Homo sapiens: one gene and its partners. The protein of the gene in region 4 purifies or fractionates together with the protein of the main gene of each other region. This does not show direct contact. Each region holds a gene or a part of one and is shown on either strand. Other genes may lie near its edges.

Evidence for each region.
Region 1: the proteins of MON2 (region 4) and VSIG1 purify together in Homo sapiens (co-immunoprecipitation; one large-scale study listed by IntAct). This does not show direct contact.
Region 2: the proteins of MON2 (region 4) and AKAP10 purify together in Homo sapiens (tandem affinity purification; one large-scale study listed by IntAct). This does not show direct contact.
Region 3: the proteins of MON2 (region 4) and DOP1A purify together in Homo sapiens (co-immunoprecipitation; one study listed by IntAct). This does not show direct contact.
Region 5: the proteins of MON2 (region 4) and PAAF1 fractionate together in Homo sapiens (co-fractionation; one large-scale study listed by BioGRID). This does not show direct contact.

Annotation. Positions count from the first base shown.
Region 1 is NC_000023.11:108,051,541-108,056,513, reverse strand, and holds part of VSIG1 (V-set and immunoglobulin domain-containing protein 1 isoform 2 precursor), read right to left. Parts: intron 1-4,973.
Region 2 is NC_000017.11:19,932,625-19,937,597, reverse strand, and holds part of AKAP10 (A-kinase anchor protein 10, mitochondrial isoform 1 precursor), read left to right. Parts: intron 1-1,167; coding exon 1,168-1,312; intron 1,313-4,973. UniProt on the Homo sapiens protein: Differentially targeted protein that binds to type I and II regulatory subunits of protein kinase A and anchors them to the mitochondria or the plasma membrane.
Region 3 is NC_000006.12:83,136,701-83,141,673, forward strand, and holds part of DOP1A (protein DOP1A), read left to right. Parts: intron 1-472; coding exon 473-2,462; intron 2,463-3,299; coding exon 3,300-3,411; intron 3,412-3,520; coding exon 3,521-3,703; intron 3,704-4,973. UniProt on the Homo sapiens protein: May be involved in protein traffic between late Golgi and early endosomes.
Region 4 is NC_000012.12:62,472,502-62,477,474, reverse strand, and holds part of MON2 (protein MON2 homolog), read right to left. Parts: intron 1-4,973. UniProt on the Homo sapiens protein: Plays a role in regulating membrane trafficking of cargo proteins. Together with ATP9A and DOP1B, regulates SNX3 retromer-mediated endosomal sorting of WLS away from lysosomal degradation.
Region 5 is NC_000011.10:73,907,511-73,912,483, reverse strand, and holds part of PAAF1 (proteasomal ATPase-associated factor 1), read right to left. Parts: intron 3,086-4,973; coding exon 2,891-3,085; intron 1-2,890. UniProt on the Homo sapiens protein: Inhibits proteasome 26S assembly and proteolytic activity by impairing the association of the 19S regulatory complex with the 20S core.

The DNA of each region.
Region 1 (4,973 bases), on a different chromosome or scaffold from region 4:
ATATAATCTAGATGCAAATCTTTTGGGGATAGAGAGTTTTATTTCTTCATTTCCAATTTGTAGGCCTTTTATTTATTTTTATTGCCTAATTGCAGTGGCTACAACTTCCAGTACTATGTTGAATAAGAGAGATGAGAGTGGACATCCTTGCATTGTTTCCAATCATAGGGCAAAAGCGTTCAGTCTTTCACCATGAAGTATAATGTTGGCTGTAGGTTACTTGTAGGTGTTTTTATCAAGTTGAGGCAATTCTCCTCTGTAGGGGGTTAAATTGTGTCCCTCAAAAAGATAAGTTCAATTTCTAACCTCCAGTATATGTGAATGTGACCTTATTTAGAAATAGGGTTTTTGCAGATGTAATTAAGGATCCTGAGATGAGATAATCACTGATTTAGAGCAGACCCTAAATTCAATGACTGTTGTCCTTATAAGAAAACGGAGAGGGAGGCTTAACACAGAGACTCACAAAGGGAAAGGCTCTGTGAAGACAGAAGCAGAGACTGGAATGATGCATCTATAAGCCAAAGAATACCGAGAATTGCCAGCAGCCATCTAAGAGAGACTTATGGCACAGATTCTCCTTCAGAGACCTCAGAAGAAACCAACAGTTTGATTTAAAACATTTGGCCTCCAGAACTGTGAGAGAATTAATTTCTCTTGCTTTAAGCCACCCCATTTGTGGCAATTTGTTACAGCTGCTCTGGGAAACAAATACACCCTCTATTCCTAACTTGCTGAGTTTTAATGATGAATGGGTATTGGATTTTGTCAAATGCTTTATCTGCATCAGTTGATATGATCATATTTTTTTTTCTTTAGCCTGTTGATATGGTGGATTACACTGAATGCTTTTTGAATGTTGAACCAGCCTTACAAACCTGAAATAAATCCCATTTGGTCATGGTGTATAATTCTTTTCATACATTGTTGGATTCAATTTGCTAGTGTTTTGCTAAGGATTTTTGTGTCAAAGTTCATGAGAGAGATATTGGCCTGTAGTTTTCTATTTTTGTACTGTTTTTGTCTGGTTTTGGTATCAGGATAATACTGGCCTCATAAAATGAGTTGGAAGTGTTTCCTCCTGTTCTATTTTTTGGAAGAGAATGTGTAAAACTGATCTTAATAATTCTTTAAATGTTTGCTAGAATTATTTGCTGAAGCTATCTAGGCCTGGAGATTTATTTTGTAGGAGCTTTTAAAATTATGAATTCAATTTCTTTAATGGTTATAGAGCTATTCAGATTATCCATTTCATATTGGGTGAGTTCTAGTAGTTTGCTGCTTTGGATAAATTGGCCAATTTTTTTCTAAGTTGTCAAATATATGAATGTATAATTGTTCATAATATTCTCTCATTATATTTTTAATGACTGCAGGATCTATAGTGATATTCCATATTTCATTTCTGATATTAGTGATTTGGGTCTTAACTCTTTTTATTAGTCTTGCTAGAAGTTTGTCAGTTTTACTGATTTTTTTTTCAGAAAAGCAAATTTTTGTGTTATTAATTTTTCCCTATAGTTTTTCTATTTCAAATTCATTGATTTCAGCTCTTTATTATTCCCTTCCTTCTGCTTGCTTTGGGTTTATTTTGGTCTTCTTTTCTAGATCCTTGATGTAGAAATTTAGGTTATTGACTTAAGACCTTCCTTTATTTCCAATGTAAACATTTAGTGTTAGAAATTTCTCTCTCAGAATTGCTTTATCTACATGGTACATATTTCAATATGTTGTGTTTTCATTTGCATTCAGTTCTACGCATTTTTAAAAAAATTCCTTTTGAGATTTCCTCTTTGATCCACGGATTATTTAGAACAGTGTTGTTTAATTTCCACGTGTTTAGATACTTTTCTGCTACAGATTTCTAGTTTCATTGCATTGTAGTCAGAGAATATACTCTGTATGATTTCAATTATTTTAAATTTGTTTAGGTTTGTTTTACGGCCAAGCACATTATCTATCTTGGTGAATGTTCTGTAGGTGCCAAAAAAAAGTGTGTTCTGCTGTTGTTGGGTGGAGTTTTCTATACAAAGAGATATAATTTAAAACCACTATGGAAAAACCAATATAAAATCGTAAAAATATTCAACTGGATCCTGTTAATTGACTGTCTTTTTCAGATCTTCCCTATATTTACTGATGTTCTGTCTAGTAGATTTATCAATTTCTGAGAGGGGGTATTGAATTTCCCAACTATAATTGTGGATTTGTCTCTTTCTTCTTTTAGCTTGATCAGTTTTTGTTCATGAATTTTGAGACATAGTTGTTTGGTGTGTACCCATTAAGGATCATTGTATCCTCCTGCTGGATTGATCCATTTATCATTAGGTAATGTCTCTGTTTATCTCTTTTAACTTTCTTTGCTCTGAAGACTATTTTATCAGATATTAATGAAGCTTCTCCAGATTTTTGAAAAATTAATACTTATGTGGTACATCTTTTTCTATATTTTTACTTGCAATCTTCCTATGTCATCAAATTTAATGTGAGTTTCTTGTGAATAGCATATAGAGTAGTTCCCCCTTATTCCAGGGAGATATATTCCAAGACCCCCAGTGGATGCCTGAAACCATGGATAGTACTGAACTCTATGTATACTATATATATTTTTCCCCCATACACACAAACCTATGATAAAGTTTAATTTATAAATTAGGCACAGTAAGAGATTAACAATGATAACTACTAATAAATAGAACAATTATACCAATGTACTGGAGTAAAAATTATGTGATTGTGTTCACACACTCACACTCTTTCTCACAAAATATCTTATTATACTGTACTATGGGTAACTGAAACCTCAGAAAGTAAAACCACAGATAAAAGGGGACTACTGTAGTGGTATTCGCATTCAATATAATTATTTAATGTAATTATTGATATATTATTCTTGTTTGCTATTTTATTATTTGTTTTTTGTTTGTTCCCTTTAGTTCTTATTCTTCTGTTTCCCTTTTCTTGCTTTTCTGATAGTTACTTGAGCATTTTTTATGATTCCATCTTGACTTATTCATAGTGTTTTAAAATATATATCTTTGTAGAGTTTTCCCAGTGGTTTCTCTGGGTATTCAACATTCATGTGTGAGTCATAACAGTCTACTCATATCAATATTTTACCACTTTGATTGAAGTGTATAAACCTCACTTCCATTTAGTTTCCTTTACCTTCCCCACTTTTAAATATCATTGTCTAGAGTATAAAATGGTGTTATAATTTTGCTTCAATTATCAAATATGATTTATAGAACTCATGAGTTAAAAGATAGTCTACTTTATGTACTTACATTTCTGCTCTTTCTGTTGTCCTTTCATCCTTCCTGATTGCTCTTTATCATTTATTCTCTGTTTGAAGAAATCCCTTTAGCTATTTTTTAACAGTATGTCTGCTAGCAACAAATCTTTTTGTTTTCCTTCAACTGAGAATTTAATTATTTCCCCTTAATTCCTGAAGGATAGTTTCACCAGATATGGATTCTATTTTCTGTCATCTCTGCTCTTCTATTGAGTCCATCAGCCAGTTTTTCATTTTTGTTATTTTATTTTACAGTTCTATAATTTATATTTGTTTTTTGGGGGGAGGGGACAAACAAGCCAGTTTTATTCAAAAAATAATTCCAAGGGGGAAAAAAGAAAACTGAGAAAGAGCCTATAGATTGTAAGGGTCTTTAGAAAAATAGTAGATAATTGCAAAGTATGTATTTTTTAAATTCTTGTTTTTAACTTAATTTTTATTTTAATTAATTAACAAATAATTATTGCATATATTTATGGGATACAATGTGATATTTTAATATATGCATACACTGTGGAATAATTACATCGAGCTAATTAACATATCCATCACCTCACGTAATTTATCCTTTTTTTTGTTTTTTGTTCTGTTTTGTTTTGTTTTCAGACAGGGTCTCACTCTGTCACCCAGGTTGGAGTGCAGTAGTGTGATCTCGGCTCACGGCAACCTCTGCCTCCCAGGCTTAAGCAATTCTCCCATCTCAGCATCCCGAGTAGCTAGGACCACAGGCACATGCCACCATGCCCAGCTAATTTTGTGTGTGTGTGTGTGTGTGTATTTTTGGTAGAAATAGGGTTTCACCACGTGGCCCAGGCTCTTCTCGAAATCCTGAGCTCAAGTGATCCACCTTCCTTGGCCTCCCAAAGTGGCGGGATTACAGGCATGAGCCACCACATCTGGCCTACCTATCTTTTGTTTCGTTTTGTTTTTTTCATAGCAGGAACATTTAAAATCTATTATTTTTTTGAATACTTTTTTGGGGAACAGGTGATGTTTGGTTACGTGGATAAGTTCATTAGTGGTGATTTCTGAGATTTTGGTGCCCCCATTACCCGAACAGTGTACACTGTACCCAATGTGTAGACTAAAATCTTATGCTTTTAGCAGTTTTGAAATGCACATACATTATTATCAACTATGGTGAGCATGCTGCAAAATAGGTCTTAAAAACTTATTCCTCTTGTCTAACTGGAACTTTGTACCCTTTGGTCAACTTCTCCCCATTTCCCACTCCCTCCAAGCCACAGTCCCTGGTAACCATTCTACTCTAATTCTGAGTTCAACTCTTTTAGATCTCACATATAAGTGAGATTATGTGGTGTTTGTCTTTCTGTGTCTGGCTTGCTTCACTTAGCATAATGTCCCCCAGGTTCATTCATGCTGTAGCAAATGACAGAATTTCCTTCTTTCTTATATTTTTATAACTTCTTTTTCTTTTCTGCAAGTTTCCTTTTTTTTCTTTATTTGTTTTAAGATAATGTTAATTGATTGTTGAGGCATTTTTATGATGGCTACTTTGAAATCCTTGTCAGATAATTCCAACATCGAACTCATCTTAATGTTGGCAGTAGTTGCCTTTTCTCAGTCAAGTTGTGATTTACTTGATTCTTGGTATGACAGATGATTTTTGATTGAACATTTTGTCTACTATGTTAGGAAACTCATATTTACATTTTTT
Region 2 (4,973 bases), on a different chromosome or scaffold from region 4:
CCAACTTACTCAATACAACATAGGAGATTCACATTTTGTTACAAAAATGCTGATTTAAAAGGAGAGTTTTCTTTTTTTTCTTCTTTTTTATTTTTTGAGATGGAGTCTTGCTCTGTCACCCAGGCTAGAGTGCAGTGACACGATCTCAGCTCACTGCAACCTCCACCTCCTGGGTTCAAGCGGTTCTCCTGCCTCAGCCTCCTGAGTAGCTGGGATTACAGGTGGGGGCCACCACGCCCAGCTAATTTTTGTATTTTTAGTAGAGACAGGGTTTCACCATGTTGGCCAGGCCGGTCTTGAACTCCTGACCTCAAGTGATCCACCCACCACTGCCTCCCAAAGTGCTGGGATTATAGGCGTGAGCCACTGTGCCCAGCCTGCTTGTTTTTGTATCATATATATGCATCATCATAATCATGCATTATCAACCTTTGTATTTCTGTCAGGACATAGAAACCATTAGAGTGCTTGGAAGAGAGCCTTTTTTTTTTTCTCGCATTTAATGCTTTTTTTGGTATTCATTTCATAATCAGCTTACCAAAACATTACCTGCATTATACCCCATCAAGGTAGAAATCTTTGTGTTATCAATATTGGTTACTCCCTTTCCACACCGAGTCATCAGTAAGTCCTGTTCTATCCAAATAGGTCATATGCATCTAGCTCACCCCTCAGTGCTGTTTTGTTTTGAATTTGTACATGTTTACTCCTGATGCCTTGTAGTTATGATGATGTGTTCTTATTTTATTCTGTGCATACAAGTTCTCAGCTCGCTTTTTAGGGAAAATGACCATGTCTTCCTTTCCTATAAATTCCTTTCTATCTATCAAGTCCTCAACAGAGAATAGGTACCCATAAATATGTGATTGTTAGTTTCTTTGCCTCAGTTGTAGTCTGATCCTTACAGCTTTTAAACAACAGTAGAGTTCACCGTCAAGAACTAAGGATGGTTGGCAGGCAGATAGAAAGGTAGCAAGTTGACCCAACTATCTCTGGGGAAGTGGGAACAAAGAAAGGTTACATCAGCACTGTCATCACATAGCTCTATAGTTCTAGGCCTGCAGGCTCAATCAAGTAGCCTTGTATAAGATTCTCTGGAGGAGGTGCTGAAAGTTGCTTATACTTGCTATGGAATTTGATTTTACTTCGGATATCTTTTTACCATAGGTACTTCTCCCTCCAAGCCACACATCCTCTTGGATTTGATGATGTTGTACGATTAGAAATTGAATCCAATATCTGCAGGGAAGGTGGGCCACTCCCCAACTGTTTCACAACTCCATTACGTCAGGCCTGGACAACCATGGAGAAGGTAACCCAGAACTTCAAACGTATCAAACTACAAGAAGTTTTATTGGTAGAACTCATAAAATATAAGGTGGGAAAACCAAGCAGAATAGCACAGTGGAAATTGAAGCAGTCCAGCAAAGTGATTAAGAGCAGAGGCCTTGAGTCTGGCCTGGTATGTACAGTCACGTGCCACATAACATTTTAGTCAACAGTGGACTGCGTGTACGATGGTCCTGTACGATTATAATGGATCAAAGCTGGTAGTGCAATAATAACAAAAGTTAGAAAAAATAAATTTTAATAAGTAAAAAAGAAAAAAGAAAAACTAAAAAGATAAAAGAATAACCAAGAACAAAACAAAAAAAATTATAATGGAGCTGAAAAATCTCTGTTGCCTCATATTTACTGTACTATACTTTTAATCATTATTTTAGAGTGCTCCTTCTACTTACTAAGAAAACAGTTAACTGTAAAACAGCTTCAGACAGGTCCTTCAGGAGGTTTCCAGAAGGAGGCATTGTTATCAAAGGAGATGACGGCTCCATGCGTGTTACTGCCCCTGAAGACCTTCCAGTGGGACAAGATGTGGAGGTGAAAGAAAGTGTTATTGATGATCCTGACCCTGTGTAGGCTTAGGCTAATGTGGGTGTTTGTCTTAGTTTTTAACAAACAAATTTAAAAAGAAAAAAAAAATTAAAAATAGAAAAAAGCTTATAAAATAAGGATATAATGAAAATATTTTTGTACAGCTGTATATGTTTGTGTTTTAAGCTGTTATGACAACAGAGTCAAAAAGCTAAAAAAAGTAAAACAGTTAAAAAGTTACAGTAAGCTAATTTATTATTAAAGAAAAAAATTTTAAATAAATTTAGTGTAGCCTAAGTGTACAGTGTAAGTCTACAGTAGTGTACAATAATGTGCTAGGCCTTCACATTCACTTACCACTCACTCGCTGACTCACCCAGAGCAACTTCCAGTCTTGCAAGCTCCATTCATGGTAAGTGCCCTATACAGATGTACCATTTTTTATCTTTTATACTGTATTTTTACTGTGCCTTTTCTGTATTTGTGTTTAAATACACAAATTCTTACCATTGCAATAGTGGCCTACGATATTCATTATAGTAACATGTGATACAGGTTTGTAGCCCAAAAGCAATAGGTTGTACCATATAGCCAAGGGGTGTAGTAGGCCATACCATCTAGGTTTGTATAAGTACACTCTGTGATGTTAGCACAATGGCAAGCAGCCTAACGGAAATTCTGTTTATTGATTGATTGATTGATTGATTGATTGAGACAGAGTTTCACTCCATTGTCCAGGCTGGAGTGCAGTTGCACAGTCTTGGCACACTGCAACTTCTGCCTCCCAGGTTCAACCAATTATCCTGCCTCATCCTCCCAAGTAGCTGGGATTACAGGCAGGCACCACCATACCTGGCTAATTTTTGTATTTTAGTAGAGACAGGGTTTCACCATTTTGGCCAGGCTGTTCTCGAACTCCTGACCTTAAGTGATCTGCCTGCTTTGGCCTCCGAAAGTGCTGGGATTACAGGCATGAGCTACCATGCCTGGGCAGTAACTGAAATTCTCTAATGCCATTTTCCTTATCTGTAAAGTGACGATAATATGCACGTTTACCTCAAAGTTACTTTGATGATTAAAGTAAGGTAATGTATATAAAATACATATTAACATAGTACCTGACACATGGTAAGCATCAAAAAATGTTAACTACTTTTATTACTATTATTATTACGTATTTTTAAATAATTAGAGAGCAGTATCAAAAATTAGCTGGGCGTAGTGGCATGCACCTATAGTTCCAGCTACTCAGGAGGCTGAAGCTGGAGGATTGCATGAGCCTGGGAATTAAAGGCTGCAGTGAGCCGTGTTCATGCCCCTGCACTCCAGCCTTGGTGACAGAGCAAGACCCTGTCTTGAACAATTAAAGAAGGCATTATGCCGCAACGTTAGCTTAGAAATGATCCACATATATCACCAGTAACTGTCAACAGGATTGGAACCCTAGTTTTGGGTATTATGATCACAAGGTATTATTAATAGCTTATTAATAATAAAGCGTTGGCTAGGCACGGCGACTCACATCTGTAATCCCAGCACTTTGGGAGGCCGAGGTGGGTGGATCACCTGAGGTCAGGAGTTTGAGACCAGCCTGACCAACATGGAGAAACCCCATCTCTACTAAAAATACAAAATTAGCCGGGCGTGGTGGTGCATGCCTGTAATCCCAGCTACTTAGGAGGCTGAGGCAGGAAAATCTCTTGAACCCGGGAGGCAGAGGTTGCAGTGAGCTGAGATCGCACCATTGCACTCCAGCCTGGGCAACAAGAGCAAAACTCCGTCTCAAAAATATAATTATAATAAATAAATAAAAGTAAAGTATTGATGTTTGTGAATGATTTATTCTTCTAATGAACTAGAGGAGATTTTTCCAGGAATTTCAGAGCCAGTGAGGTTATGTTGCTTGTATGTGTCATGTGTATCCAGGTGAAAAAACTTAATTAAACGCTATTATATAATACCATACATAAAAACTGAATTTTAGGAATACTGAAGAATGACATATAGAAGTCAAATCATTAAATAGCTAGTAGTAAACAGAATAGAGTGTCAGCTGTTACCCAATGATGATAATATTTTCACGATTAAAATTAAACCTTTTCTGATTTTAAAGGAAAAGTTCAGATCTGTATCATATAAAGAATGTAAATTTTCAGGGTAATAAAATTAAAATGCAGAGAGAAAAATGCAAAAATAGTTCTTACTAGATGTGTGTATGTAAGGAACTTAGACTAATTTTAAGAACACTGTCAAGACCCTGGTAGTTAGGTAGGAAAAAAGACATGAATGATTCATTCAACAAAAACTTTGAGTATTTCTGTGCTAGATGGTAGTGTTACAGTGGTAAACAAAATAAATGTGTTTCTGCTATCCTGGAGCTTAGTCTACAAAAAAGGTACATATTGGCCGGGCACGGTGGCTCACGCCTGTAATCCTAGCACTTTGGAAGATCGAGGCGGGTGGATCACCTGAGGTCAGGAGTTCAAGACCAGCTTGGCCAACATGGCGAAACCCCGTCTCTACTAAAAATACAAAAATTAACTGGGTGTGGTGGCGGACACCTGTAATCCCAGCTACTCGGGAGGCTGAGGCAGGAGAATCACTTGAACCTGGGAGACAGAGGTTCCAGTGAGTCGAGATCATGCCACTGCATTCCAGCCCGGGGGACAAAAGCGAAAATACGTCTCAAAAAAACAAAAACAAACAACAAAGGCACGTATTAAATACGAACATAAATATTTACAAATTATACTGAATAAGTTCTCATGTTTATTATTTGCTTGTCCAGTTACAAACTTTTCCTTCGTAGAATTAGAAATATAAATAATAAACATGAGAACTCATTCAGTATAATTAATAATTATTAAATGTAAATAAAAACATCTATGTACAATTAGGCATTTATTTAAGAATTATTTGAAAAAAAAACAATGTGGAAACAGATATTTTGATATATTGCTAGTGATTGAAATTGATAATGTTCTTTTGAAGAGTAAAGTGACCATATATATTAAAGTTAAAATTTAACTCAGCAATCACACGCCTGGTGAGTTATCTTAAGGAAATCAGTTTGAAAGTAAAATCAATATATGCACAAA
Region 3 (4,973 bases), on a different chromosome or scaffold from region 4:
CCTGCTTATTGCCAGAATGTCTTTGTGTTAATGCTTTATCTAACTGTCTGCTGAATTCTCACCTCCCCTCTGAGATCAGTGCCAGACCTCATCAATGGTATCATGATTCTTTCCCTAAATTTGCTAGCATTTGGTATGTACTACTTTGTATGTCACTAAGCCTTCCACCTTTTCTAAAAGAAGACCGTCATTATTGTATGCCCCCTAAAAAATACAGAAATGAATTATGTATTTGTGGTTTGCTGCTAATTTTAAAGTCTTTAGAGAGCTTAGAAACAGCATAACTAAAGTGAGGTATTAAGGAGGAAAAAACAAAACTTTCACCTGCAATAAAATAAAATGTAATTTTAGGAAAATATAAGTAGATGATGACACTAATGATTAAAAATTTTGATCAGTCTACATTTCTACATTTCAATTATTTTAATGCATTTTGTATTTTTCTTCTTTTACTGTTTTTCTCATATATCAGTGAGCCAAGTACAACTCATCACATCAAAAGGAAATGGTGAAAAGCCACTTACCATGGATGAAATAGAGAACTTTAGTCTCACTGTGAATCCATTAAGTGACAGACTTTCCCTCCTAAGTACCAGCAGTGAGACAATTCCAATGGTTGTGTCTGATTTTGATCTTCCAGACCAACAGATAGAAATACTTCAGAGTTCTGACTCGGGATGTTCACAGTCCTCTGCTGGGGACAACTTGAGTTACGAAGTTGATCCTGAAACCGTGAATGCCCAAGAGGATTCTCAAATGCCCAAGGAAAGCTCCCCAGATGATGATGTTCAACAGGTAGTATTTGACCTGATATGTAAAGTTGTAAGTGGCCTCGAAGTGGAATCTGCATCAGTTACATCTCAATTAGAAATTGAAGCTATGCCCCCAAAGTGCAGTGATATAGATCCAGATGAAGAGACGATTAAAATTGAAGATGACTCCATTCAACAGAGTCAGAATGCTTTGCTGAGTAATGAAAGTTCTCAGTTTCTGTCTGTGTCTGCAGAGGGAGGCCATGAGTGTGTGGCAAATGGAATCTCCAGGAATAGCTCCTCACCTTGTATTTCAGGAACCACACACACTCTTCATGACTCTTCTGTTGCTTCCATAGAAACCAAATCTAGACAAAGGAGTCACAGTAGTATTCAATTCAGCTTCAAAGAAAAATTATCAGAAAAAGTTTCGGAGAAGGAAACAATAGTTAAGGAGTCAGGTAAACAACCAGGAGCAAAACCTAAAGTAAAACTTGCCAGAAAAAAGGATGATGACAAGAAAAAATCTTCAAATGAAAAACTCAAACAAACCAGTGTATTCTTCAGTGATGGTCTGGATTTAGAGAACTGGTATAGCTGTGGAGAGGGAGACATTTCTGAAATTGAGAGTGACATGGGTTCTCCAGGATCTCGAAAATCTCCCAATTTCAACATTCATCCTCTCTATCAACATGTGCTCCTGTATCTCCAGTTGTATGATTCATCCAGGACTTTGTATGCTTTCTCTGCCATCAAAGCCATCTTGAAAACTAACCCTATAGCTTTTGTAAATGCCATTTCAACTACTAGTGTAAATAATGCATATACTCCTCAGTTGTCTCTCCTTCAGAATCTATTGGCCAGACACCGGATTTCTGTTATGGGCAAAGATTTTTATAGTCACATTCCAGTGGACTCAAATCATAACTTCCGGAGTTCTATGTACATAGAAATTCTTATTTCTCTCTGCTTATATTACATGCGTAGCCATTACCCAACTCATGTCAAGGTTACTGCACAAGATTTAATAGGCAATCGAAACATGCAAATGATGAGCATAGAAATTCTGACACTACTCTTCACTGAGCTGGCAAAAGTAATAGAAAGCTCAGCGAAGGGTTTCCCTAGTTTTATTTCTGATATGTTATCTAAGTGCAAAGTTCAGAAAGTGATTCTTCATTGTTTGCTGTCATCTATCTTTAGTGCTCAGAAATGGCATAGTGAAAAAATGGCAGGTAAGAACCTGGTTGCTGTGGAAGAAGGTTTCTCAGAGGACAGCCTTATTAATTTCTCAGAGGATGAATTTGACAATGGCAGCACGTTGCAGTCACAACTTCTTAAGGTGCTTCAGAGGCTGATTGTTCTAGAACACAGAGTAATGACTATTCCTGAAGAGAATGAAACAGGTTTTGATTTTGTTGTATCTGACTTAGAACACATCAGTCCCCATCAACCCATGACTTCTCTTCAGTATTTGCATGCTCAGCCAATCACATGTCAAGGCATGTTCCTCTGTGCAGTGATACGAGCTTTGCATCAGCACTGTGCATGTAAGATGCACCCACAATGGATTGGTTTAATCACATCTACTCTGCCTTACATGGGAAAAGTTCTGCAGAGAGTGGTTGTTTCTGTGACACTACAACTGTGCAGAAATTTAGATAATCTAATTCAGCAGTACAAATACGAAACAGGATTATCTGATAGTAGGTAAGAGGTGATTTTTAACTTTATTGGTACTGACATTTTTCACATATATGACTGCTTAATGTCTGGAAAGTTGGTCACAACTTGAGTAAATAAAGTAATGGTTTTTGGTAGGTTACAAATAGTGTATTACTTTCCACAAAAAAGAAAATTTGACTTGAGGAAGAGTATCAGTAAAAGAATCTAGAATGGAAAAGGGAAGGAATATTTAAACAGGCTTATTTTCTACCAAGATCTAAAATTAATTTCAATGCTCTTCTCTTCTTGCCTGAGCTGGCAAAACTAATGGGAAGCTTAGAAAAGGGTTTCCCAGGTTTTGTCTGTTTTATCTAAGTGCAAATCAATTTCAGACTGAAAATAATTTAAATTTACAAATCTTTTCCATCCAATTTTATTTCTTGTTTTGGATTTTCATGGTTTAGTGACAAAATTCGATCTGAGTCTCTATGCTCAAAATGAAGTCTGAAAAATTAGTTCCAGTAGACTGTCATTTTTCTTCAGAATAACCTTAGTTTCTACATGTAAAATAATAAGAAAACTGCCTGTATTGTTTAATATTAATATGCCTGCCATTCCTCAGTGGCTAGAGAGTCACTAGCCATCATTTGTTTATTTTGTATAGAATTCTTTAGCCAAAAAGAACTCTAGTACATTTAGTCCAACTCACTTATTTTATAGATTAGGAAATAAAAGCCCCTGATTTATTCTTTTAGCCATTTGTTAATCTAGTATTTATTGCACATCTTCTGTGTACCTGACACATTGTGAGTATTTACTAGTGATAAAATATGAACTATACTATCATAAAACTTGTGTTTAAATGAATGCATTTTACTTCAGGCCTCTGTGGATGGCATCAATTATTCCACCAGATATGATTCTTACTCTTTTGGAAGGGATTACAGCCATTATCCATTACTGTTTGTTGGATCCAACTACACAGTATCACCAAGTAAGACTGCACAAATATTTGACTTCTTTTGAAAGACTGTGAGGTCTAATAAATTTCCATTTGTAAATCTCAGTAAGTAATATGTTTCTTTTCCCCCAACTGTTAATAGCTTTTGGTCAGTGTAGACCAGAAACACTTGTTTGAAGCACGCAGTGGAATCCTCTCAATCCTTCATATGATCATGTCCTCTGTGACACTGCTTTGGAGCATACTGCATCAAGCTGATTCTTCAGAAAAGATGACTATTGCCGCATCCGCATCTCTTACCACTATTAATCTTGGAGCTACAAAGGTTAGACAATTCATATTTAATCTGTAGAGCTCAAGAGTCTGAGGACCTTCCCAAAGATTATATTCAGAATATGTGAATAATTTGTGTAGTATTTACAGGACTCTGCTAATTATCAAATAATTTTTAACAGTTTTCCTGGGCTATGGCTGACGTATCATAGAATTTGCCCATTTTTAAGTATACAATTCAGTAATTTTTTTAGTAAATTTACAGAGTTGTGAACTATCACCCCAGTCCAATTTTTGAATATGTTCTTTACCACAGATTCCTCATGGCCATTTGCACTCACTCCCTGTTCCCATCCCTAATCCCAATCAACCACGAATCTATTCTCTCCATATATTGATTTGCTTTTTCTGAAAAAGTTCATATAAATGGAATGATAACAATATTTGGTCTTTTGTGTCTAGCTTCTTTCACGTGACATATTTTTAAGGTTCATTCATACATGTTATAACTTTATTCCTTTTTTTTTTAGGGCATTTTAAATTGACATTTTAATATGCAAAGCCCTCCTAGAAAACAATTTAGCAATATGTATAGAGAGCTTTAAAGGTTTCATAGTCTTTGACCTAGTAATCTACTTTAGGAATGAATTCTAAGGTAATTGAAATTATACAAAGATGTATATACAAAGTGTTCATTATAGTATTATTTAATGGCAGAAAAAACAGAGATCCTAAACAATTAATTAGGGAATGTTTAAATTATCCTTTCAATGTTTCATTACATAGCCACTAATATTCATGGTTTTGAAGAATTCTTATTGGATGGAGAAGGGCTCAAAAGCTCAGTGAAACAGGGATGTTACATAATTGAACAAATACCATATTTTCAATTATGTAAAAAATGTTATCTGCAGAAAAAGGAATAAAGAAAGTTTGCATTTTATCAGTAATTATCTCAGGATGGTGGGATAACTTATTGATTTTTAAATTTTTTTTCTTCCTTGCACTCTGATATTTTCCAAATGCTGTGCCATGTCAAGCTGTCAAATTGATATCCTTCAATAACCTAATTTTGCTCCTAGACCAGACCACCTGGATCAGGGATCCAAGGGAACACATAGGGAAGTGGGAAAAGGGTAAGGGTGGGAACCATTAGAACATTTGATCTAAGTTTTGATGCTTGGATTAAACTATACTTTTTATGTTTCGTTTTACTTAAATAAAACAGAAGGTGTTTTATAATTATAGAATCCCTCACCTTTTTTTAAAGGACTCTATATCAGACTTACTAAGTTGAATTTTATATGTGTTGTGTTTTTCTA
Region 4 (4,973 bases):
CGGCCTGGGCAACAGAGAAAGACCCTGTCTCAACATAAATAAATAAATATAAAGTAGATTAAGTTAATCATGGTACCCTAGAGTTAGGAATGAGAATCCAAAGGGTTGAAAATGAGAGAAGAACATAGCCTACCAACGAAGGAAGCAAAAGGGAATGGATGGTAGCAAAGGAATTAACAAATGTCCACTCAAAACTATGTATAGATTTACACACACAAAAAAAGTTATTTAAAAGGTTACTTTTTTTTCACAAAAGTTGCTGTTCTGCTTGGTTTTGTTTTTGAGATAAGGCATCACTCTATCAACAGTAGTGTAAGGACATCCTTTGAAAGGAAAAAACAAACTATGGACCTACCCAGTACAGTGACGCCTTCATAACTCACTGCAGCATTGAATTCCTGGGCTCAACCAATCCTCCTGCCTCAGTCTCCCAAATGGCCGGGACTATAGGCACACACCACCACGTCCAGCTAATTTTTTAGTAGAGATGGGGGTCTTGCTATGTTGCCCAGGCTAGTCTCGAATTCCTATCTCAGTGATCCTCCAGTCTTCGCCTCCCAAAGTCCCAGGATTATATGCATAAGCTTCCACACCTAACCCCTGCTCTGTTTTTAAATAACAAATGTTTTTCACGACTTCTATGAGAATAAAACCTGGATATTAAGGCAAATTTACCAAAGGTCCAAATTATTTTTCCACAGGACACAGCATGAAACAAGAGCTAAAGAAGAAATGTGAGGCTGGGCATGGTGGCTCATGCCTGTAATCCCACTACTTTGGGAGGCTGAGGTGGGTGGATAATTTGAAGTCAGGCATTCAAGACTAGCCTGGCCAACATAGTGAAACCCCGTCTCTACTAAAAATACAAAAAATTAGCCGGTCAGTAGTGGTGTGCACCTGTAATACCAGCTACTCAGGAGGCTGAGGCAAGAGAATCGCTTGAGCCTGGGAGGCATAGGTTGCAGTAAGCCTAGATCATGCCACTGCACTCCAGCCTGGGCAATGGAGCGAGACTCTGCCTCAAAAAAAAAAAAAAAGTGAAATTCAAGTTAATGGCAACTTAGATAAAATAATATACTAATGAGACACAAGAGAGGTATGGAGCTGCCTGAAGACTTGTGATTTCAGATGTCAGGTAAAATCAAAAGACCCGAAGTCAAGTGTACACTGGGAGTACTTGATACATCTAGAACACCCTTTAGGTGACAAAATGCTCACAAAACAAATACTACATTGAAATCAATAAGATTTTCTTCTGTAACATTCAATTATTCTACAACCCTAAAACCTTCTAAAAATATATACCTATATGACATTCTATTCTAGAACCTCTGGCTTCTAGAAAACAAAATTTCCTTAACAAATCAAAGACTGGAATGCAGATTACATGTATATAACTAAAAATATATACATGGTATTCCCACATAGGTGGTATGCTTTTTCCTTCCTTTTCTTTTCTTTTTGAGACGGAGTTTAGCTCTCGTTGCCCAGGCTGGAGTGCAATGGCGAGATCTCGGCTCACTGCAACCTCCACCTCCCGGGTTCAAGTGATTCTCCTGCCTCAGCCTCCCGAGTAGCTGGGATTACAGGCGTCCGCCACCATGCCCAGGTAATTTTTTGTATTTTTAGTAGAGATGGGGTTTCACCACATTGGCCAGGCTGGTCGTGAACTCCTGACCTCAGGTTATCAGCCCGCCTCAGCCTCCCAAAGTGCTGGGATTACAGGCATGAGCCACTGTGCCCGGCTGAAGACTAAATTTTTAAGAAAAGGAGGATGGGTGTGGTGGCTCACGCTTGTAATCCCAGCACTTTGGGAGGCTGAGGCGGGCAGATCATGAGGTCAGGAGTTCATGACCAGCCTGGCCAACATGGTGAAACTAAAATACAAAATTACTAAAAATACTAAATTACTAAATGCTAAATTCACTATAGTGCAAAGCATTTGTATACCTAGGAGGTGCTAATTAGATACTTGTTGAAGATTAATTTTTTTTTTTAAAGATAGAGTTTCACTCTTTCACCCAGGCTAAATTACTAGATTACTGAAAATATTCTACCAAAAATACAAAAATTAGCTGGGCATGATAGCGGGCGCCTGTAATCCCAGCCACTTTGGAGGCTGAGGCATGAGAATCACTTGAACCTGGGAGGTGGGGGTTGCAGTGAGCCAAGATTACACCACTACACTCCAGCCTGGGCAAGAGTGAGAGACTCCATCTCCAAAAATAACAACAACAACAAAAAAACAAAGAAGCCATAACATGAAAGACAGAAGCAGTAGGACATATTTGGAGACTAGCAGGTAACCTAGTTGGGGTGAAGCATAAAGGCATATGAAGAAGATTTGAGGGTGATAAAGCTAAAAAGGAAGGTTAGGAAAATCAAGAGAATATTAAATGCTATGTTAGAGTCCTATAAGTAGAGTAGACATTGTGGGCTTCTGCATGGGTGACATACAGAATGATTTGAAGTCATGTATGCTATTAATGTATGTCAAAGGCCAGGCATAATGTTACTAATAGAATCTGGAACTAGCATAATAGCTGAGAAAACAGAAAAAAGGAGAAGTATGCTAAAAATTACAGAGCTGGAAGGAACAGGTGACAGTGAATAAAGAGAGATGAGGGAGAGAAGATAGCCAAATATGACTAAAGTAGGCAACAGTGCTAGATACCATTAACAAAACAACTGAAATAGGGGGAAAATGACGTTTTGAGGAAAAGACCAGTTCAATTACAAGAAGTTCTATCTGGCTGGCCGCGATGGCTCACACCTGTAATCCTAGCACTTTGAGAGGCCGAGGCGGGCAGATAACCTGAGGTCGGGAGTTTGAGACCAGCCTGACCAACACAGAGAAACCCCGTCTCTACTAAATATACAAAATTAGCCAGACATGGTGATGGGCATCTGTAATCCCAGCTACTCAGGAAGCTGAGGCAAGAGAATCACTCGAACCCGGGAGGCAGAAGTTGCGGTGAGCCGAGATTGCACCACTGCACTCCAGCCTGGATAACATGAGTGAAACTCGTCTCAAAAGAAAAGAAAAGAAAAAGAAGAGGCCAGGCGCAGTGGCTCACACCTGTAACCCCAACACTTTGGGAGGCCGAGGCGGGCGGATCACCTGAGGTCAGGAGTTCGAGACCAGCCTGGCCAACATGGTGAAACCCATCTCTACTGAAAATACAAAAATTAGCTGGGCGTGGTGGCAGGCGCCTGTAATCCCAGCTACTCAGGAGGCTGAGGCAGGAGAATCGCTTGAACCTGGGAGGCGGAGGTTGCAGTGAGCTGAGATCGCACCATTGCACTTAAGCCTGGGGGACAAGAGCGAGACTTTGTCTCAGAAAAAAAAAAAAAAGAAAAGAAAAGAAAAAGAAGAAGTTCTACTGACGCATGTGAAAAAACGTCCTAGATGTGTTTGATGTGCAGCTGGAAATGCAGATCTACACTCAGTAAAGAGAGCAAATGACTGAAGTAGATTTAAGAGTCATCAGCATCGCAGCAAGTCCAGAGGCAATAGGAGTGGATGATGCCAAGCAGGTGAGCATGGAGAAAGGAAGGATCTGAAGAGAGAACCTGGGAGACACTTGTATGTAAAGAAAAGGATGGCCGGGCACAGTGGCTCGGGTCTGTAATCCCAGCACTTTGGGAGGCTGAGGCAGGTGGATTGCTTGAGCTCAGGGGTTTGCGACCAGCCCAGGCAACATGGCAAAACCCTGTCACTATGAAAAAATACAAAAATTTGCCAGCCGTGGTGGCATCTGCCTACAGTCCCAGCTACTCAGGAGGCTGAGGTGGGAGGATCATTTGAGCCTGGGAGACAGAGGCTGCAGTGAGCCAAGATAGCCCACTGCACTCCAACCAGGGTGACAGAGTAAGACCCTGTCTCAAAAAATAGAAACAAAAAGAAAAAGAAAAGGATGTGGAATACTGAGAGGGGAAACAGGGAAGTACAGTCTTACAAAACTCAAAACTAGAGGGTTCCAAGATGGAAAGAATAACCAATAGTAACAAATAATGAAGCAAGGTAAACAAATGGGAACAATAACAAAAACAAGAAAGTTGTAAAGGCATGTGCAGCATGATATAATGGAAAATGGGAGAGGAGTTAGAGATGGACTCACATGGACTCACATACCATTTCCACCATTTCCACCATTTTCCAGCTTTACTACCTTATGCAAATTACTAAACCTGTCTATACCAGTTTCCTCATCTGTAAAATGAAATATTTAATATGGCATGTTGCATTAGAGTCTAAGGATGCAAAGTTCCAAGCCTAGTGGGAAGGCAACATTTTATTCAACCTTGAGTTAACTTCATGAGACTAAAGGCAATTTCTCAATTATTTCTGTGTTCCTGCTGTGCTTTTTTAGGAGACTCATAAATTTCTGTTAAATTATAACAGTAACAGCAAAACCTTCTACTTCATACATGGTTGAAAATGTTCAGCTATGCTTACATAAAGGAAAAAAGAAAAATAAATCAAATTTTGAAATATGTCTTCCTTTTTGGCTTATAAGTTAGAGAATATGTCTTTTATTTTTTCTGTCACCAAAGCACAGGTAATCATTTATTTCAGTTTATAGCTTTCAATATATAAAGCATGAATATATTATATTACGCTTATGGGAGAAAGAACACAATGTCAAGAGGAAGAAACCACATTATAAAATACTAAACCAAAACAGATCCCAAGTAAGCTCGTAAAGATTATCCAGCCCTCATCTTCAATGTCATAAGGTCGTGCAAATGAGGTGTTAACCCAACCAGGAGAGCCAATGACATTAGTCACAGTCCCTAAATATCTGATTAAATGGCAAATCCTGTCACAGTAAGTAGAAGGCATCTCTTTCACTAGGGGTCTCCCTAAGCCAGTTAACAAAGCAAAACACCTGGATACTGAGGAACTCTATCACAAGAAACCTTTGCTTTTCTCTGCCAGCCAATTTCTATTAGGCCTGAATGGGTAACAG
Region 5 (4,973 bases), on a different chromosome or scaffold from region 4:
AAGTTAGAGATGATAGACTTTGCTGATGTGGGACATGAGGAAAGAGAGGGTGGACTGTGAGTGAATCTCAGGCTTTGGGCTTGAGCAAATGGGTAGATAGCGGTGCCATCTTCTGAGATGGAAAAAAACAGTTTGGGGTGGGGAGGGATCAAACACTCCTTGTTAGACAAGGTAAGTTCAACTTATTTATTAGACATCGAAATAGAGTCTGAAACTCAGGTGAAAGGTCTATGCTTTACATGAACTTTGGAATGATAGCTATAGAACAGATGAGGTCACAAAGGAAGAAACTGTAGTTATAGCTGAGGGCCCAGAACTTAATAGTGGGGCCCTCTAGTATTTAAAGGTAGAAGAGAGGAGTTTCATAAAAGGAGACCTTTAAGAAGTAGCAGTCAATGAAATAGGAAGAAAACCAGTGTTATGTGGTATCACAGAAGCCATGAAAAAAAAAAGTTTTTTGAGGAGAGGGTTTACTATGTGAAATACCACTGAATTCAGAAAGACAAGCACAGAGAAACAAGGTGGATTAGGCAAGAAGAAGGTCACTGGTGGCTGGGGCCCATAGCTCACACCTGTAAGCCCAGCACTTTGGGAGGCTTAGGAGGGTGGATCACTTGAGGCCAGAAGTTCATGACCAGCCTGGCCAACATGGTGAAACCTCATCTGTACTACAAATACAAAAATTAGCCAGGCATGGTGGTGGGCACCCGTAATCCCAGCTACTCGGGAGGCTGAGGCACAAGAATCACTCGAACACTTGAACCTGGGAGGTGGAGGCTGCAGTGAGCCAAGAGATCGCACCACTGCACTCCAGCCTGGGCAACAGAGTGAGACTCCATCTCAAAAAAAAAAAAAAAAAAAGGAAGGTCACTGGTGACTTTAACAACAGCCATTTCAGTCAAGTACTTGGGCACAAACCATCCTAGAATGGGTTGAAGAGTAAATGGGAAATGAAAAATTACAGAAAACAAGAAAAAATATTCTCATTTAAATTACTTTAGGGCCAGGAGCTGTGGCTCATGCTTGTAATCCTAGCACTTTGGGAGGCTAAGATGGGAGAATCACTTGAGGCCATGAGTTCAACACCAGCCTGGGCAACATAGTGAGACCCTGTCTCTACAAAAATAAAAAAAAGTAGCTAGGTGTAGTGGTGCATGCCTAGAGTCCTAGCTACTCGAGAGGGTGAGAGGCAGGAGAACTGCTTGAACAGAGTACAGAGGATTATTAGGGCTAAGAAACTACTATGTATGATACTGCAATGGTAAATACATGTCACTGTACACTTGTCAGACCCTATAGGATATATAACACCAAGAGTAAGCCCTAATGTAAACTCTGAACTTTGGGTGACAATAATGTGTCACGTAGGTTCATCAGCTGTAATAAATGTACCACTCTGGTGGGGGATATTGATAGTGAGGAGGGCTATGTGTGAGTGGGTAAGGCAAAAGGTATATAAGAACTCCCTGTACTTTTTTTTTTTTTTTTTTTTTTGAGACAGAGTCTCACACTGTCGCCTGGGCTGGAGTGCAATGGAGCGATCTCAGCTCACTGCAACTTCCTCCTCCCAGGTTCACACGATTCTCCTGCCTTAGCCTCCCGAGTAGCTGGGATTACATGCACACACTACCACACCCAACTAATTTTTTGTATTTTTAGTAGAGATGGGGTTTCACTATGTTGGCCAGACTGGTTTCGAGCTCCTGACCTTGTGAATCGCCCGCCTCGGCCTCCCAAAGTGCTGGGATTACAGGCGTGAGCCACTGCACCTGGTCCCCTGTACTTTCTGCTAAATTTTGCTGTGAGCCTAAAATGGCCCTAAAAAATAAGGGCTATTTTTTAAAATGTGAGGGGCTAAGACAACAGTAGAAAAAACATTGTCCTATGGAACAGAGATGCAACTATTATTATGGGAAAATAAGAAGGAAAGTTGCCTTATTAGGACCTTTATTAGTCTCTCACCACAGCTATTCAACCCATTTCCTACTACTACCCCTCTTAATTCAACTTTCTAGCCCAGTCAAACATATCTTTTTATATAACACTTAGTTTCACGTCCAAGCTATAATGCAAACTGCCCCTACACCTACCCCTTGCCCTAGCTCCCATTGTCCTATCCTTACAATTACTGTCTGTTCAACTTCAACTTATCCTCTAAAGGTTCAAGCCAACTTCTTTTGTGACATCTTTCCTATCTATACTAACCGGGAACACTCCGTCCCTCTGAAAACCTATTATATTTGCATTAGGACTTGCTAATTTGCCAGGCATGGTGGTGCAGGCCTGTAGTCCCAGCTATTAGGGAGGCTGTGGTGGGAGCATCACTTGAGCCCAGGAGTTCAATGCCAGCCTGGGCAAAACAGCAGGACTCTATCGCTAAAAGAATAAAATAAATAAAAAGAATCACTAATTATTTCAGCCAAATGTTACTGTTCTCTAAATGTTTTAAAGCAAGCTTGTCCAACCTGCAGCCCAGGGTGGCTCTGAATGAGGCCCAACACAAATTCATAAACTTTCTTAAAATATTATGAGATTTATTTATTTTTAGCTCAGCTATCATCAATGTTGTGTATTTTATGTGTGGCCCAAGACAAGTCTTCCAATGTGGCCCAGGGAAGCCAAAAGATCGGACACCCCTGCTTTATAGGCATTTATCTCATCTTCTACATTAGATTGTACTTACTGAAACGCAGTGCTATGACATATACTTCCTTTGTAGATTCCAAAGTAATAGAAACATAGTAGGTACAGAGTAAATATTAATCGTATGGTGAAAACAGAAATACCAGGCACAGAGCAGAAAAGGATGAGGAAGAAAAGGAGAAACTAAGGCAATCACTGAAGGGGGCCTAAGAAAATAAAACAATGCTACATATCATTATCAACTTACTGGGCATCTGCTCAGGGGAGCCAAGGTTTATGGAGTTGTCAGCAGCACCCACCGCCACTCCATTGATAGAAGAACCACAATCTGCAAGGACTCCCAAGCAGGCTGAGCGCCCACAATCCCAAAGTCGTGCTGTCCCATCTCGAGAAGCAGACACCACATTCCTCCCCCGATCAACGATGGCTGTATCCAGGATACCTAGCAAGAGAAAAAAACTCCCTAAGATGGAGGATGGAGTAAAGGAACTACAAGGGCAGAGAAGATGGAGCTGCATAAATGACTCCATCCCTTCACAAACATGTTCTGAACAGGTACCACATGCTGGCCATGTTCAAGTGCTAGAAAAACAGAAATAGAGTCCCAGCTTCCCAATGAATCAAAGTCTAGCTGTGAAAGACAGGCATGGAAAAACAAGTACTGGATTTAATTTTTAGTGGAGTGTGCTAGAGAAATCATGTTCAAGTTTTTTATTTTGTCTTCAAAACTCTTTTTTAAAAAGAAAAATTAAGAGGTCGGGCGTGGTGGCTCACACCTGTAATCCCAGCACTTTGGGAGGCCGAGGCAGGTGGATTGCCTGAGCTCAGCAGTTCAAGACCAGCCTAGCTAACATGATGAAACCCTGTCTTTACTAAAAATACAAAATAGCCAGGCGTGGTGACACATGCCTGTAATCCCAGCTAAACAGGAGGCTGAGGCAGGAGAATCGCTCGAACCTGGGAGGCGTAGGTTGCAGTGACCCGAGATCACGCCACTGCACTCCAGCCTTCAACAGAGGAGACTCCGTCTCAAAAAATAAATAAATAAATAAAAAATAAAAATTAAGTAGACACCTTAACAAGAACTTTGGAGGAAAAAAAAGTTGACACCTAAGCTAATTCAGTTTGAAAATCACTGCCTTGGCCAGGTGCAGTGGTACACACCTGTAATTCCAGCACTTTGGGAGGCTGAGGCAGGAGAATCTCTTGAGCGCAGGAGTTTAAGACCAGCCTGGGTGACACAGCATGACTCTGTCTGTACAAAAAATTTAATTTAGGTATGGTGGCTCGTGCCTGTAATCCCAGCTACTCAGGAGGCTGAGGTGGGAGGATTGCTTGAGCCCTGGAGTTCAAGGCTACAGTAAGCCATGATTGCTCCACTGCACTCCAGCCTGGGCAGTGGAGCAAGACCCATATATATATATACACACATATATATACACATATATATATACACACATATATATACATATATATATACACACATATATACACATATATACACATATATATACATATATACACATATATATACATATATACACACATATATATACATATATACACATATATACACATATATACATATATATACACATATATATACACACATATATATATATTTATTTACATATATGCTGCTGCTGCTTTCACTGATAATTGATTAAAAGGGTTAGCCTCCCCATTTGAAAAAAGGACATGACTTCTGGTTTTGGCCAAGAAAGAGTAGTCCCATTGCTCCTAGGTCCTTCTGTTTACAACTGAAAAGTCATTGACACCACAAGCATAGTAAGACTTGGAATGATGGAAAGAAGGTGGTGGACCACTTAAGGACCTCAGGACTTAAAAAACAACACAGCAATGAGTTCCTGGATTTCCTTATTGCCTCCCACATGTCCTGGACAGGACACTGCAGAAGCCTCCAACACAAAACTGCTAACAGGAACAGAGTTAAAAAACAAAACAAAACAAAACTCCCAGTAAAGTCTGTTGCCCCTAGCCCAAAGACTGAGAAAGAAGTAGCTCACAAAATAGAAATCTTGGCAACATCCACCCTATACCAGTAGACATCAACAGAAAAACTGTTACTTCCCCTCCCCCATGGTTTCAGTGGGGCTGAACAGGAGGTGATCATCTACCCCGCTCCCATGGAAGCCGGCAGCAGCACTCCCATTCCCCTACCCAGTGGGGTTGACCAGGTTAAGTAGGGTACTGTCACAGGATCTAGCAGTGAGCTCAGTTTCCATCCCCACCTGGCAGTGACAGGCACAAAGAGGTGCCCTGAGGTGCCCACCACCCCTTCCCAGGTGTCAGTCAGCAGGGAACCAAGC